Regions from separate parts of the Homo sapiens genome. Here region 2 is linked to region 1. The links come from fine-mapping of genetic effects on gene expression. A gene starts in region 1. The other region holds a variant in brackets. All regions are shown on one strand. Distances are from middle to middle.

Evidence for each region.
Region 2: its variant is fine-mapped to the expression of LYPLAL1-DT in putamen (GTEx, PIP above 0.99).

The regions. Positions count from the first base shown.
Region 1 is chr1:219,169,310-219,177,782 of GRCh38, forward strand. LYPLAL1-DT (LYPLAL1 divergent transcript) reads right to left here and starts at 4,479. Exons shown (of 5, transcript NR_038845.1): 1 at 4,161-4,479. LYPLAL1 (lysophospholipase like 1) reads left to right here and starts at 4,569. Exons shown (of 5, transcript NM_138794.5): 1 at 4,569-4,672. The coding sequence starts at 4,582. RefSeq lists enhancers at 4,400-4,449, 4,530-4,859, 8,254-8,473.
Region 2 is chr1:218,809,673-218,818,145 of GRCh38, forward strand. No RefSeq gene overlaps it. Among named protein-coding and RNA genes, the nearest start is that of LINC01710, 100 kb to the right of the region's middle. The variant T/C (reference allele first, on the strand shown) is at 4,304.

The DNA.
Region 1 (8,473 bases):
TACCTATCTAATCTTCTCTTAAATGAATGTAGCAAAATACAGTAGATATTCTGACTGCATTCATAAGGAAATTACTCTTTTGGCTTTTATTTCTTTTCTTTGTAATAGACGTATGCAATGCAATGACTTCCCCTCATCTCATGGTAGGATTTGAACTTCCCTGCCCTCAAGGGCCCAAAACCTGATTAGGGGTTGCTGTTGATTCTTGCCCTGGATTTCAAAAGCCTGAAAATTTGTTATAGAAGAAAAAAGTAATAGGTTCTAGAGTACAGAGACAAATATGAAGATTGCAGGAGGGATTCCTCAGACTCATATAAGCACTGAGTGGAAGTTGAATAAGAAGTGTTTCCAGAGGGTAACTTAGGAATTTGAGAACTGGCCATAAGAGGTGTCCAAATGGAAGAAGACCCATTTCCCAGAAAAGAGGAGACAAATGGCAATGCAAAGAACATTGTTCTGGTGTCCAAGCATAAACACTGACCCTGTAGCCTGCACCCAAGGGAGGAAAGTTCACTGTCCTCCTCTAGGGCCTACATACTGCTTTGGTGTGTATCATGTTGACTGTTAATAATCCAGCAGAGTAATCACTATCCATTCTCCAAGGCTGCGTTTGGTCTGTGTTTGAGGAGCTCATGTATTCCCCTACCCCTACTGCCAATGCCATCTCAGTCCATCTCACAATGCCCCACGTGACCCATCTGCTCTAAAAAGAGAATGAGACCATGCACATCTAGTAGTAAGGTAAAGTAGAGGAATGACCCATATCTGTATCTGGAAAGACTGGACTGAAAAAGATTAAGGTCCCCAGAACTGAGGCAATGATTATGTTAAAGTTTATAATCTCATTTATAAAAAGTATAGTTTTGCTGTTTTGTAAGAATTCAGGACCTTTAAGTTTGTTTCTAGTTTTTCTTTCATGAATGGACAGGGGGAATGCATAAAAGAAATCATTTTATTTATCTATGACAAAATGTTAAATTACCTAAAGCTGAAGCTGAAGCATTTTGTGCAATGTGTATATATTGTTTATATATATATGTGTGTGTGTGTGTGTGTGTGTGTGTGTGTGTGTGTTTCTCTCTCTCTGAATGATGCAACAGATGAAAACTAACCAATAGAGAGGATATGGTTTGATGCTTAAGAATGAGCCAAACAACAAACGGGAAACTGTGTACTGTCTGCGTGACAAATGCAACTTCATTTAACTGTTATCATTTGAAAATACCAAGTATACTAATCTTGTTCATTGTTTTTGTTTCTTTTTTGAGACAGAGTCTTGCTCTGTCACCCAGGCTGGAGTTCAGTGGTGAGATCTTGGCTCACTGCAACCTCTGCCTCGGGGTTCAATCAATTATTGTGTCTCAGCCACCGGAGTAGCTGGGATTACAGGCATGCGCCATGATGCTCGGCTAAGTTTTTTTGTATTTTTAGTACAGATGGGGTTTCGCCATGTTGGCCAGGCTGGTCTTAAACTCCTGGCCTGAAGTGAACCGCCTGCCTTGGCCTCCCAAAGTGCTGGGATTACAGTAAGCCACTGCACCCAGGCAAAATATACTAATCTTAATGGCTGAACTTTCAATTGCTTTTCTGTTTTGAAAACTAAGTGTGGCCTAAAGCATTTCTCAACACACTGAAGAACAGTAAACTAAACTCCGACTTTGCCATTTATATCGTTAGATCCTAATTGATATTGAAACCCTGCAAAACAGGAGAACTTTTTCTTTTTCTTTTATTTTGTTTACTTGCTTTTTTAAGTTTAGAACTGAAGTTACCAAAAGGAGGTGCATATAGATTGGCAGAAAGCAAATGAGTAGCAACAAAAAATAATTAGGAGCTATATAAAGAGTAAAAGAATGTATGAATAGGAATCTTCCAGTGATAATATTCCCCCACCTTCAATAGGGCAAAAGATCCACCACAAAAGCAAATAGTCATCTTGAAACTTAATTACATTTCAAAGTAGTACAGTAACATGAAAGGAACAAAACATTTTTGTTCAACAGTTTGCCTACCAGATGGGATCTCTAAATATAGGTAATCTAAAACCTTTGCTTGTCCTATAAACAAATACAGATGAAAGGAATAGCAACAATAGCTAAGCATTTAAATCACTGGAAATAAAATAGCACTTTGGTTAAGTGTGGAAGAATCTGGCTCATTCTAATAATGAATCTGGGAAGGCTGGAGTTCTCAGTGAAATTCAGAATACAGAAGGTTGCTTCTGGTATTTACCACCTGCTTATCTACCTGTTTAAACTGGTAGAATAGTTGGAAGAACAAATCAGGAACTAATAGCAGTAGACTTGGGAAAAACTAAAGAAGCACAGGAACACCTAATAAATAGAGACTCTAAAGGGCCACAATACAAATTCCAGACTTTTGTTTTTGAAATAAGAGTTGCGACATGCCCTTGCTTCATTTCTGTGCACTCATGTGTAAATGTGGGTAATAGTTAAGAACCTATGCTCTGGAGTCAAGCCCAGCATGTGAATCCAGGTTCTACAATTGACTGGCACTATGACTTTGAGCCAGGTTCCTTACCTCTTTGAGCCTCATTGACAAAAGCAGATAGTAATAGTACTGAGTTTTATTGGAATTAATTTATGACAGTTTTTGGCACCTACTGAATCCCATGAATATTAGTTGCTTATTATTATTAATAATCATTACTCTTAAATAATTATATTCTGATTTTTTGCTGTCTCAAAAGCGTGGGGTGGTGTACAGTAAGATTTTCAGGTAGTAAATGGAGTTCTAAGAGTAGAACTTAAAGCCTTCCCTGTATATCTCCAAGTGGTCTTTCCTAGTAGCACTGCCCTCTTCTCACCTGGCTAGGGAAGGTTATCTAGAACTCATACGGGGAAGGCAGGTCAAAAGACAGAGGTTTTTCTTTTAAGAATTGGCTATCAGAGCTCAGCCTACCCTAGTTTGTCCTCCTCAGGGACTTCACTTATACAACTCTCTGCTGCAGATCTATGGGCTTTGGAGAAATGACTCAGAATTTCTTTTTGATTTGGTTAACTAATGGCATGTAGGACCATTCTTGTTGATGGTATTGTTATTAATATAACACCATGATAGCTTAGAGCTGATTTTGGCAACTAATGTTGATAGTAAACAGTTTACTTACCTGTAAGTAGGGTGATTACCTGGAACAAATAAAAGGTAAGTTGTAATTGCTAAAATGTAATGCAGACTACAATGAATGGAAGGCCAGTGTTTAATGGTACTTAAGCTTTTACTGGGTTATTTTGTTGAATTTTACATGAGGCAAGAGCAACCTGCTGGGGCCACTGCCTTCAGTATTAAAAGATACCTATGTTTTGGACTTTATACAGGAAATAATTCCATTTCTTAGTATTTTTAAAATTATGGTAAAATACACATAAAATTTACTAGGTGTATAGTTCACTGGCAGTTATTAACACTGTTGTACAACCATCATCACTGTCCATTTTTAAAAATGTTTCACTATCTAAGCAGAAACTCTTGTACTCATTAAACAACAACCTCCCAACTCCCTCTTCCCTTAGTCCCTGGTAACCTCTAATTTCACTTTCTGTCCCTATGCATTTGCCAATTCTAGATATCTCATGTAAGTGGAATCATACAATTATTTGTCCTTTTGTGTCTGGCTTCACTCGGCATAATGTTTTCAAGGTTCATCCATGTTGTAGCATGTATCCGAATCACATTCTTTTTACAGGCTGAATAATATTCCATTCCAATATGTACATAGCACATTTGGTTTATCTCTCCATCTGTAGATGAACATTTGAGTTGTTTCCACTTTTTGGTACTTGTGAATAATGCTGCTACAGAACACTGAAGTACAAGTATTTGTTTGAGTCCCTGCTTTCATCTCTTTTGGGTATATACCTAGAAGTGGAACTGCTAGTACCTATGCTAAGTCAATGTTTAACTTGTTGAGGAGCCACCAAATTATTTCTATTGCCGCAACATCATTTTACATTCTGATCAGCTATGCACAAGGTTTCTAATTTCTACACATCTTTACTAATACTTATTTTCTGTTTTTTTGATAAGAGCCATTCTAATGGGTATATAAAGCAGAATCTCATTAAATTAGATTTGCTTTGTAAACTATTTATTAAAAATAAGAGACACGAAGAGAACTTATTATTATATGCTTCGCTTACCCTGTATATCAAGAGCTGCAAACATCCTGTGCGAGTCCCAAAGTGAAAGGTAAAATATGGTTCTATTAAATTTTAAACATAGTAACACGAATATTTCTCCAAATAAGGTAATCTTGAGTTTTGGGATTGCATTTAAAATTCCTACAGCAAATGCTCAGGATATAAACATATCCATTAGTCATTACAGAAGTCCACACGAGGCTGACACACGTAGAATACCATTATTAGCAAAACTAAACTCAGTACAGTTACAACTGCCTCAAACTTGACCCCAAAGTATTGAAAGCTCCTCAGAGAGCGGGCCAGCAGCGCTGCGCATGCGCGCTCCCGGGCGTGCTCCCGCGCGTGCCTGCGTATTTGCGTGCGCGGCCCCGCGCGGCAACGCAGGGGCGGAACCGCATGACTGGCAGTGGCATCAGCGATGGCGGCTGCGTCGGGGTCGGTTCTGCAGCGCTGTATCGTGTCGCCGGCAGGGAGGCATAGCGCCTCTCTGATCTTCCTGCATGGCTCAGGTGGATTTCAATTTTACGTCCTGGTTTTCTACAGCTCGGGAAACATCCTCCCCTCGGTTACCCCAGTATTGCCCAAGTGGAGGTGTCGCCGGGCCCAAATAGGGCCCAGTGGGTGGCTCCCCCGTCGCCAGCCCCGGCTGTAGATGCACGGGCAGCGCCACCTGCCCCCAGCCTCCCCCGTTAGTCTTCCTCTTTCTATCGGGCGGTCACTGGTCCACCACCCTCGCTTTGGGGCCTTGTGTCCCGCCGCTCAGCCAGCCCTCCATCCCCACAACACACCTCCCCATTCCTCGCCCCAAGTTTAAACAGAGCAAGTTAGTAAGGTAAGTCTTCTGCTAGAGGGAAATTATTTAGTGTTTTTCATTATCAGCTACTAGTGATTTTTCAGTCGTAATTGCCCATTGCTTTTTCCAGGCTCCCATACTAATGTAGACAATTGAGATTCACAGTTAACTTAGATACTGTTTACAGATTATCTCTTTTCTGTAAGCCACTGTGCCATGGCTGGAGTGCTTTCTCTCACTTTCCTTTTTGCTGCTTCTCTTTCCTTCCTTTCCCTTTCCCGCCTGTGTCATTAAACTTCCAAGATAGACTACAGGGGCAGGACCCCCAGGGACAGGCATCTTCCACTACCTGCCCTTAGTAACGTGTGCTTAATGCTGTATCGTTACTTAACACTCATCTGTAATCACTTTTGTCTGTCTTCCCCACTGGATTGTGAACTTCCCACTGGATTATGAGAGTAAGGGCCCTTGTGTCAACCTTTGCACCCCCAGTGCTTGGCCCAGGGTAAGCTCTCAGGAAATGTTTTTTAAAGAAATGAGATGCAGCCGGTGTCCTCAGGGGGCCTACCTAAAGTTAAAAACAAAAACAATCCAATTAGTTTGAGTCAGCAGTGCATGGAAGATCACAAGACGGTGCATGGTTTCCTGCCAAGTGAATTGTAAGAGAAAAAAATGTGGTTAGGCATTATTAAGGCATTTGGAAGATGAAAAGCTTGTCAGACTTTTCGAAGAAAGTGGTCTTTGAGCCGAGACGGGTAGGCTTAAATGGGACGGTGATTGGAAGGGAATTGGAAAGGTACTGGGCAGAGACCTGGAAAAGGGCAATTGTGGGAGGTATTCTCTTTATTTTGAAAATGAGGCCAGACAGGTTCAGCAGCTTGGCCAAGGTCTCTTAGCTGTTACTGTGAGTAGTGGCGGATTTGGGATTAGAACCCAAAGCTCTCCGACCTCAAACTCAGGGCTTTGGTGGGGTAAGGTGAAAAAGTTTGAACTAGGATATATTGTTTTGGAGATAGGGAAGAAGAGGTCCAATAGTGTTTAAAGGGAAAGACGGCATATATTTAGAAGGTGACGTGTGTAAGATGACAGCGGTACTTAATAACTAGGAGACTGGTAGTACTATTTAGGGCTCCAAGAGTGTTCATTTATAAGTACCCAGAAATTCCCCAACACTGTACCCTTTCTCATAATCAATTCTCATTATCTTTAGGAAGAACTCCTAGACTATGTTCTTTTTTCCCCTGGACCTCTTTGCTTAAAATAATTATCCTTTTTTTGAATTTCAGATTACATTTTTATAACCTGTAAGGGTATGTCTCTAAAATTCAGAGTCATGTATGTATGTATTTTTTCCTTTGTACTTTGAACCAAGAATTTATTCAAAGAATTCTGCCAAGTATGCGAGTATAATGTGATTCCTATATATTTAAATCTCCACTGAAGTAAATAAAACCTTATTGGGAGTAGGTCTTTATCATCTTTATCGTTGGGAGTAGGTCTTTATCATCCAGTAGGTCTTTAGCAGCTAGTGATTTTACATTCAACTTTAATGTATGTGGTTATGTTATAGGAGATGTTTGGTTTCTGCTTAACTAGAATATGGGCAAACCAATTCTGTTTTATCACACTCAGTTTTGCCATACTGTTAACCAGTTTTAACACTTTTACTATGGAATAAAGTACTAGCTTTTTAAAAAGTGGACATTGGGAATGGATAGATGTTGTTTTGCAGCTGCATTCTTACTCTTCGAGGCTGAAAAAATGTTGTTAAAGACAGATTTTGTGTTTTCAAATAAAAAACCTTAAAAGCTTGAGATTTTCTTCTAGGAGATAGCAGCCATAGAAGAACATATGGGAGTGTAAATTATATGTAGCCAACTTAATTTGAGCCTTTTCTATTAATAAAGTACTAAAGACGGACCTTCTTTTAAGATGATAAAAATAAATGATAGGTTAATGAGTTTTGTTCAGTCTCTCAGATCAGATTAATTCACTCTTATTTGCTCCCATAGGACACTGGTTCTTCTTTCAGTGGTAGTCATCATACTTGTAATTATGTAATGTAATGTCTGTATTCCACACTAAGCTAGTAGGTCCACAAAGCCCAAACCATGTGTCTTGTTTATGGCTTTCTTCTTGTGTGGTAAGGCTCAGCAAGTTGACTGAGTAGCTTCTTGGTAAAGTCACCAGTAAGCTCAGGCTCTATGTCGCTCAATGTAATGGACATTTTCAGTCGTCCTCTTACGTGAACTGTCATCTGCATTCAGCTTTCTTCTCAAAAAACTCTCCTGGTTCTTTTTCTGTCTTGATTTGCTCCTTCTGGTTTCTTTTGCAGACTCATCCTCCTCTACCTGGCCATTAATGATGGGGTTTCTCTAAATTTGGTCCAAGGTCTTTTCACTCTACATTTTTCTCCCTAGGCTAATCACAGAAGTCTCCTAGAGATACCCATTTGTGTCACTGGTGTATAGGTAAAAATAGAACCTTTGAATTTCTGTGGAGATTCATAGATTCTATTTTTGAGCTCTAGACAAGTTCATCTAACTGCCTGATAGACATTCATTCATGAATCCATTCATTCAAGAAATATATCACAGCCTCCATGTGTAAGGCACTGTTCTGTGCTCTGATCATACAGCAATGAAAAAAACAAATCACTGCTCTCATGGAGCTTATGTTCTAATGAAGTAAATAAATACTATAGTAGAAGGTAGTAAGTTTTATGGAAACAAGGAAAGCAGGATAAGGGGATTCTTCCATGGATGAGAAGTTGGAACAGTGTTACAATTTTAAATAAAGTAGTCAGGTTATGCCTCACTGCAAAGATGACAGAAGATGAAACTTCACAGCTAGACTTAGACTTGGCTTTAAAGCCAAGTCGGAGGCTCCAGGGTAGGGTCCTTGACATGTTCAAGGAACAGCAGTAAGGCTAGTGTGTCTGGAGTGAGAAGAATAGGAAGGGATATCCAAGAGGGTACTGGCATCCAGGTAGTGTAGGGCAGGGGTTGGCAAACTTTCTGCAAAAAGTCAGGTAAGCATTTTAGCTTTTGTGGGCCATGTAAGGTCTCTTCCCCATAGTTTTCCCTTCTCTCTCTTTTTGAGAAAGGAGTCTTTAATAATGTAAAACTCATTCTTAGCTTATCCTCCTTAAGGACCCTAGGCTGGATTTTGTCCTCCCCTCTAGCTGTCCATAGTTGCTCAATCAACCCATGGTATAAGACCTTGTATGCATTACAAAGAGGCACCTCACACTCAACCTGTGTATGCCTGTTGCTTATGTTTCCTGTCTAGGCAGGTGTCTAGTATTGTTCACCCAGTTACTCCGGCCAAAAGCCTGTTAGTCATCCATGAGACCTTTTACTGTTGACCCTTTATAACAAATCCGTTGCCAATCTCTATTAATTTTACCACCTAAATTTCTCTAGTATCTGTTTCTATCTACATCATCGCTGTAGTCTAAGCATGAACAGTAGTTTCCTAACTGATCTCTGTACATCTACTTTTGCTCTCTTTCAAT
Region 2 (8,473 bases), 360 kb before region 1:
TGACAAAGACACTGCTTTTGCTGTCATTGGCCTGCTTTCAACTTTTATGTCCAAAACAAATGAATCTGGATGGAAGTAGTTAAAACAGCAAAGTGAGCTAGTTCAATTCTTTTAAAGATATTATTGCTACACTATCCTCCCCCATTTGTAATCTGTGTCAGGAGATAGAGACCACTTCAACTCAATGAGTCACTTCAACTTCCTAGCCAGAACAATTAAAATTCTTGTATAAAACAAGACCTGAAGCCTGCCCTTCACCACATCACCTCACCTCAAAAAGGCCCAAGGGTCACATCTGACATTTAACAGCTCACAAATTCAATTTTGTAACTAATGAAGCCAACTTAATGCTTTTACAAATGAATACTGGGTTATTGCAAATTTTCTTCTTCAACATTTGGGTAATATATAAAATGTATTGTCAGTTCAACTGCCAGCCTGAATAACATTATATATGCCTCTTCATCATGATGGCATGATGGAGATAGCATTTGTAAGCCAGTGGTAGGGAGAATTAGAAGAGGATAAGACAGTCTTCCATCCCTCACTCTCCTTTCTCCATGCACAGACCCCCCCAAGGAAAGAAAGTAAGGAAGAGGAAGCCTCAACAAATACAGCCCAGAAACACAGATGTACAGTTTGTCTAGCTAGTACTCCTGCTGACTAGATGAAGACGGCACTAGCCTCAAGGATTAACTGCACTGCCCTACAAGTTACTGAAACAGTTAATGCAATTTGCAGATTTGCGTCTTCTTTATTGCTAGCAGCTGAGCAGCTTTTTTCCTCCTCCTCCTTTCAGTTGTTATTGATGTCTTGCCATATTTTGCATACAATCCCCTAAACAGCATTAGCTCATTTTTACTCCAGTCTTGCAGATTACCTCATCTGGGTTATGTTCTTTGGTGCGTTGGTGTTGAGTGTTGAATATGTCTTAATTTTTCATTCTTAAAGGCATTCTCAACCATAATAGGTACTTAATAAGTTTGATCTTCTTTTACATCATGTGTTTGACCTGCCTATGAGAAGGACTCCCAGATTTTCATTTCTTCATTTGTTGGTATCTATAGTAGGTGGATTTATGTGGAAAGACAGAGGGAGTGTTATGTTACTTTCCTTTATTTCTCAGTTGTTTATGAAGCCCATCCTCTTCCTGGAATGTATATTTGACATGATTGCAATGAAGGTTCTATTTTCATCCAGCTTAAGATAACAAAGGGCTCTGCCACTTCATTTAAAAACAGATTTTTTTTCTAAGACATTTTTGATTACACTTTGTTCAATCATACTCTCTACATTTTCTACTCAGGACTCAGAACTCAGTTTTAAAGACAACCAAATTTAATTCAGATAAATTAACCACATGTACTTGGGAACATGCTATTCCCTCCCCCAACCCTTGTCACATGCATACCGTGTTCATGCAGTCTAATGCAAATTTAATTACCACTCCTTTTTCCCCACTATGCCAATTAAATCTTAGAGTCGAAAACATGCCAAAGGTCTTGTGCCATCCTGCTTCTGAGCTTTTTCCCTTAGGTACTTGAAGCACCATCTCTGGCTCTCTGTCACTGTCTCTATCTTTCTCTGTATGTATCTTCATCTCTGCCTCTGTGCCTTTATCTGTATCACCATCTACCTACCTACTTGCAGTATGAATGTATAAGCCTTTATGGTTTCCTAGCTACCTATAAGGGACTGGGCAAAAAAGATAAGAGAGGCTCAGTCCCTTTCCTTCAGAAGTCCATAGCTGAGTGTAGAAGAAAGAGATGTTTAAAAAGACACATTTCAGTTAAATGGAGTAAGAGGAGGAATAAACAAAGTGGCATGAAAGCTGCATGAAAGACTGATTAGCTTTGCTTGTGAATTGGGTTAGGTTTTACAGAGTGGATGAAATCTGCTGACAGATGAGTAGGAGTTTGCAAAACAGAAGTGGGGGTGGTGGTAGTAAAGGCAGAGAGAACAGTATGTGCAAAGGCATACTCAGTTAAATGTTTAGTGTGTTTTGGGAATGGCAAGGGAGCCAATGTGGCTGGAGTTTGGGTTGTGTGGGAAGGAATGGCAGAAACCCAGGCTACAGGGATGGAAAAGACCCATTAGGTCATAGTCCCTTTTCCCCATCTCTTCCTTCTCTCTCTTCAAGCCAAAGTATCCATGATGTTCTCATCCACGACTGGCCCAAGAAAATGTATTTAATCTCTTTGAACTAAAATAAAGGAGGTCAAGAATGGAGACAGACTAGAAGCCAGGTCACAACCTTTCTTCTCAATAGCAAAAAAACTCTTTGGTTTTGCATGTGAATGTCTTTGTGCTTTTTAAATTTGAGTTACTCAGTGTTTGGGTAATGTTCTATTTTTAATCTGTTTGCTAAAGTCAGCCATTCCTCATCCTTAAGACCATTTATCTAGATCTACAAAAGGATAAAATGTCATTTGATGTATCTTTATGAAATTGCAATTGACTTATTATTTGAGATTCAGAGCTGGCATTAACAGGAGTGATGAAAAACAAATTATTTACTGAGTCTTTCCTCTTTCCTCCCCACACACAGTCAAAACATTCTTCTCTCCCCCAGAGCAACCAAGCAAGCTCTATTATACCTCCACTAAGGGACGATTTAATTTCTTCTTCCATTTAGTCCAAGAATGACTGCATGCCTTTTAATTATAGGAGGTATTCCTTTGTAATGATGGCAGTAGAAATTGCATAACTATAACTTCAGATAATACTCATTAGATTTCTTATTTAGGAAAACTTCAAATTGTGCTGCAAGAGACAGCAAGAACTTAGTTCATGAGATCCTTTTACCAAAAGTACTAAAATCTTTAAAGAGCCAAGAGCGCTTTTTCCATTTGTAGATATTAAGTTAACCATTAAACAAGTATTGTGTTTTGCAAGATACCAAAAAAGGAAGGCCAAGTTGCGTTTGAGAATCACGTTAAAAGCCAAGATTAGAGCTAAAAGGTATGACGGTGTCCTAGGAATCATCTAGTAATATGGACGGAAACAAGAAATTTAAAAGGAATTTTTTAATTTGAATAGGCTGGCTGAAATGTCAAAAGTCGATATCAAAATACACTAAATGAAGTCTCATGCATATGGCATGAAGCACAATTCCTACTATAAAGCAATTCCAAGAAAATGTGATAAAATTAGAATATCATAAAAAATTAGAAATATAAATCAGAATATAGTTTTTAGTGAAAAATATTTCTATTTAACCTTATTTTTTCTAAACATTTAGAGAAATTGATTTTTTTCAGTATGACTTTTAAGGTGTTCTTATTCACAATCTTACTTAAAATTTAATATCAAATGCATTTTACAGCAAGATGATAAGTATCAAAATTAATTTTTATGATCTATAATTGCCTATTTTAAAACATGTGATGTACAAAGTGCAATTCATCATTATTAGTGTTCACACACAAATTATACTGTACAGTGAGACTATGTTTTAGTTATCTTTGTTCTTTTTCCCTTAGTGATTTTATGTAACTACATAATTAAAAAAAGAAAGAAACAAAGCATAATAGTCATTCATTATAAGCCCTTCATAAAGAGTGTAAAGGTTAATATATACTGTACATATATGTGTGTATGTAACAATCACTTTGTGCCAGGCATTTTGTCAATTGCATACATCCAATGTAAGCCTTAAAACAACTCCAGAAGAGAGGTAACATTAATCCAATTTTGCCGAAGAGAAAAAACATGAGTCAGAGAAAAGTTTTAAGTACCCAGCCTGAGTTCAAGGGGCCAGTAAGCAGCAAAGCTTGAATCTGACATGTCTGTTAAGGCTTACTTACATCCAAGCTCTTAGTCACTACTGTGTATAACCTTGCTGCCATTGAGGGAGTGGGTGTGTAATTCTTGGTTGACACACAAAGTGGTCCTGATTTATTTCTTATTTTGAAATAAAAATGGGCAATCTTTGGGTTATCAACAGTAGAAACTAATGTAGGGAGAAACATAAATATTCAAATTAATGGTCTGTAAATAGAATAATTTCTATCCTTAATTATTTCCTTTCAAAAAGGAAACACTGCTTACTATCTTCACAGTTTGTTCTAAGAAACTGGGAATTCAAAAGTTCTGTATGTTTTTTTAATCTACCTAATCAAAGTCATTCTTGCTGTCATTTGAATGTATATTCTTTTCCCTGCATCATTTTAAACAAGGAAGCCAGGAATAATTGCTACTTAACTGTCTATTCTACATGATTTATTTTAACTCTGAAGTCATTGCTTAATATTTTTTTCTGAAATTCTGATTTATATCATCAATTTTGAAAGAGAGAAGATCA[T/C]GAGACATGAAGAATTTTATAAACTCTTCAAAATATAATCTAGATGTGATGTGTGTTATTTGAGTGATGGATATTCTAACAGCCCTGACTTTACCACTATGCCACCTATACATGTAACAAAATTACACTTCTACCCCATAAATTAATGCAAATTATATACATACACACATGCACATATACACACACTATATATATGTATACAACCTGAAGAGTAAGGTGTTTAAAAATAAAAACTATTTTCTTAAAAATCTTATTAAAGTAGATTGCATATTTCCCTACTTTCAGAAATAAAACATTTTGAACATAATTGAATGCCTTCTGCATTCAGAGCCATTGCAATAATATTATACTATCATGATGTCAGCAGAAAGTTGACTGTCATGCTTTGATGGTCCTGGATTTTTGTACTTTTAAAATTTTAGTGTCTTTAAAAAAAATTTAGTTTTTCTGTTGTGTCACACTGTGAGGGTTCTGTCTTTCTGTCATTGAATGTTAAAAAGATGATAGTCCCAGTCCTATTTCCAAAAGCCCTACTTATTTTCTCTGCTTATGCATGAACAGATTATTGAAAAAAAGAAAAGGAATTAATCCTTAATAAGTACCTCTGGTGTGCTAGATATTGTGATAGATGCATAACTTGTGTTATTCCATATAGTCCTAATTACCCATTTGTGAAGTTAGAGTTATTAGCTCTAATTTTCACATAAGCAAACAGGTGCAGGTGGCTAAGTAACCTGTATATGCTTGTTTATGAGTCCGTGAGAAAGGTGTCCACAGCAAATGCTTATGTGTTTCTCTTGTATGTAAAGTGCACAAGTACTACTAAGTTGCACAAGACTTTCATTTCACATTCTTCATGCTTCTTCTGCTGTGACCCAGATGGGAGATGTTGTTGAACCATGCAGATGTTTCTCCCTAATGTGCTACCTGAAGCCCAAAAAAAACTTCTTATTTTTGAAATTGTTCCCTTTGTGAGAAAGTAGGGGTGGGGCAGTTAAAACCTGTGCACGTTTGTAAACAGATTATTAGCAAAAGCAATAATAATACTGATACAATATAAGCAAAGCTTAAAAGTATTTTGAATTTATACTAAATAAATACCATGGGAAATATCAGACAATACTTTAGAAATAAAGTAAAAGACAGCTTGCTGAAAGCAATACAAAGGAAGGCATTACAGGGCAGAAGGATGCTGAGTTATAGAGACAAGGGTCAATGAACAAAAAACAGGGAGAACTACTCAGAAAGCACAAAACGTACTGCCAAACTGAGCCAGTAGAAGGAACATGGGGTGACTGGGCATGGGGGACCATGCCATGTTCCTTCATGCGTTACCATATTCAGCTGGCTTGGTATACTTTGCATTCTGTTGCTGTGACTACTTGGCATAAAGTTGTAACATGTGAGGGGAAATTGTGTATGAACAGCAAGACTTCTATAGTATCCTGACATCATACCTTTACTTCCCAATAGGCTATCATTAATTTATGTGTCAGAAACATTTATTATACTAGAGTAGACTGTGTTGCCCTCATAGGTGAATGGTATGGCATTGTCTTTTTTGGTTATATTTTATAAAACATCTGGTAGTATGACTGTAGATTGTTAAAAATACACAAAGGCAAAGCCTTAGGAGAGTAAATCAATAAGTCCAATAATTAACAGAATATATGTTTTCTCAAACAATAGTTGGTATTGATTTATTTTTTTTTTTTTACTCCAAAGGGTTGATTTTTAAGAGTATTCCTAGGTATTGAAAGCAAACAATATGTGAACTCCCTATGCTTATTCCTTGGGTATAGGAATCAGTGTTCAGCATGGGCTGTTAACCAGGGACTTGGATGAAAACTGATGCCATTACTGAAGAAGCTGCACTGGCTCCATCATTCACTAAGTATTTACTTAGCATTCTCTTGCATTGAAGGCCTCTCTTCACTGACTCCAAATCTTGCCGCCTTGGCTGTAATCTTGCTGGTGCCATATTTTAGTGGGGTAATCAAATGCACCAGATAGAGAGGGACTCAATTATGTCCTACAATGTGAATGGTAAGAACATGGCTAGAATTTTTTAGGCTCTGTGATTTTAGACAAGTTATTTAATTTTTCTGAGTCTTACTTTCCTCAACTGCAATATGGAGATTAACAGTTCTCTTATAACTTCCTATGATTACCCTGAGGTTAATTTGTAAAAATGAATGTGAAGTGAAAAGATTCACAACTAAAACTTACTCAATAAAACGTGGTGGTGGTAATCACTACTACAACTACTGCTGCTACTACTACTACTACTAGAAGAATGGCTGATTGTTTCATGGATTTTGATATGTCAGCTATCACACCACATGCTTTCTGTTAGATACATTCCCTAAACTTTACTATGTATATCATGATTAGCTAAAGATGAATTGTTCAACTGGTTTATAAAACTGAGGTTATAACTTTATTTTAACAAATTTACTGAAAGAATTGCCAGGAACTTTTGATAAAGACTGCATAGAAATTAATAAAACCTCTTTCTTATTTTGAAGGAGCTGATGAATCAGTGGCAATACCCTGTAGACAGCAGTGTTGTAGAGTCACAGAAGTGAACGAGGTTACAAAAAATGCAAATTATAGTAGTTGACCAATCTGGGTTCAAAAGTCTGCTCCACTATTGACCTCTGCAGAAGCTGATTAACCCCCAGGCCTCCATTTCTTTATCCTCAGGTAACATGAACCTATCTTTGGATAATTAAAAATCAAGTATGTAAAAGGCAGGCACTGTTACAATGCCTGGTACACAAAGTTGTTCAATGGACAATGACAACAATTAGCTAAAGGACACAGTAGATAATTTTGATGGGGAGGGATTAAAGAAGGATTTATATACAGAAAAATGAAACTTAAATTGGGCCTTTAATGAAAGACCATTTTAATATCATTTGTCTAGTATATATTAATGTGTGTTTTTTTTCAGTGATTGATTTTGCATAATGTGCAATTGCTTAAAAGATCAAAAGTAAGTTCATCAGTCAGGTCAAAAATTCAGGGTTGATCTTAAGAAAAAATAAAAGAAAAATAATCAAATAAATATGAGATGTATAAGGAAAAAATTTAATTTTTTTTAAAATTTAAAATTTAAAATTTAAATTTTTATTTGAAGTGCACTTTAGGAGGCCTTAACTCCTACATGGAGGAGTTACTTCCTCAACTCACTAGGAAGCACGTGCTTGTCCTGCTCCCTGTGGCTCTGTTAAGAACAGCTAGACCTCGAGCACAGCTCTGCACTCTGTGGAAAAGAGACAGCACAACAGGAGTTCTGTGATTGATTTCTCCAATTTTTTTAAGGTAGAAAAAAAAAATGTTCTAAGACAGACACAGGGCTCAACAAGTTGAAATTGGGATTTATTCCCGGTATTACTTGGATTTTCAAGAATTTTTGGAAATCTTGCCTTTCGGCCACAGCTCTCCTCAGCATTATGAGTTATTTGCCAGATTCATTTCAAGCTCTTGAATTTACGGTTAAAAGAGAAATAAAAAGTCTTTCATTTGTTCCTAAGCTGTTTATTTTGCTTATAAAACCAATCATAACATCTACCCAATAAAAAGAGAAATGCATAAAAGTTATAACTCCAGAAAAGTTAACTGTTGAAGCCTGAAATTCCCCCAAGCAAAGCCAGAAGTCATTTTAATGAGACAGAATTTTCTCTTTGAACTTGGGAGGGCACACGAAACAAACTTGCTGAGAAAATTCTTCTTTTATCCTTCTCTAGAACTCTCCCCTTCAAGTCAGACTGTGGCTAAGCTTGGGATTGGAATTACTGGCCTAAGCAGGCAGAAACCTGGAAACAGTCTTCTACTGTTTTGTAGCACAAGAAAAACTGCTTAAAGGGCAGTGTGATGTGCATGGTACAGTATGGCACAGGACAGCCTGCTGCAGGGCGGTGCGTACTGTGGGTGTGCTATTGACCCCACCCCTCCTCTACTCGTGCCCTATCACATAAACACCAACTCTCACTATTGCACACACAGACACACACCCGCCCCCCTCCCCTTACAGAGCCAGACTGGACATCTGTGCGTTTGGAACCTAAGATACTAAAAGTGTTATGAAATGGCCTTCTGCCTCCTCTCCCCCTGCAGCTAAAACCCCAGAGCAAGGCTGATAAGCTTACTGAGCAGCAAAACCCT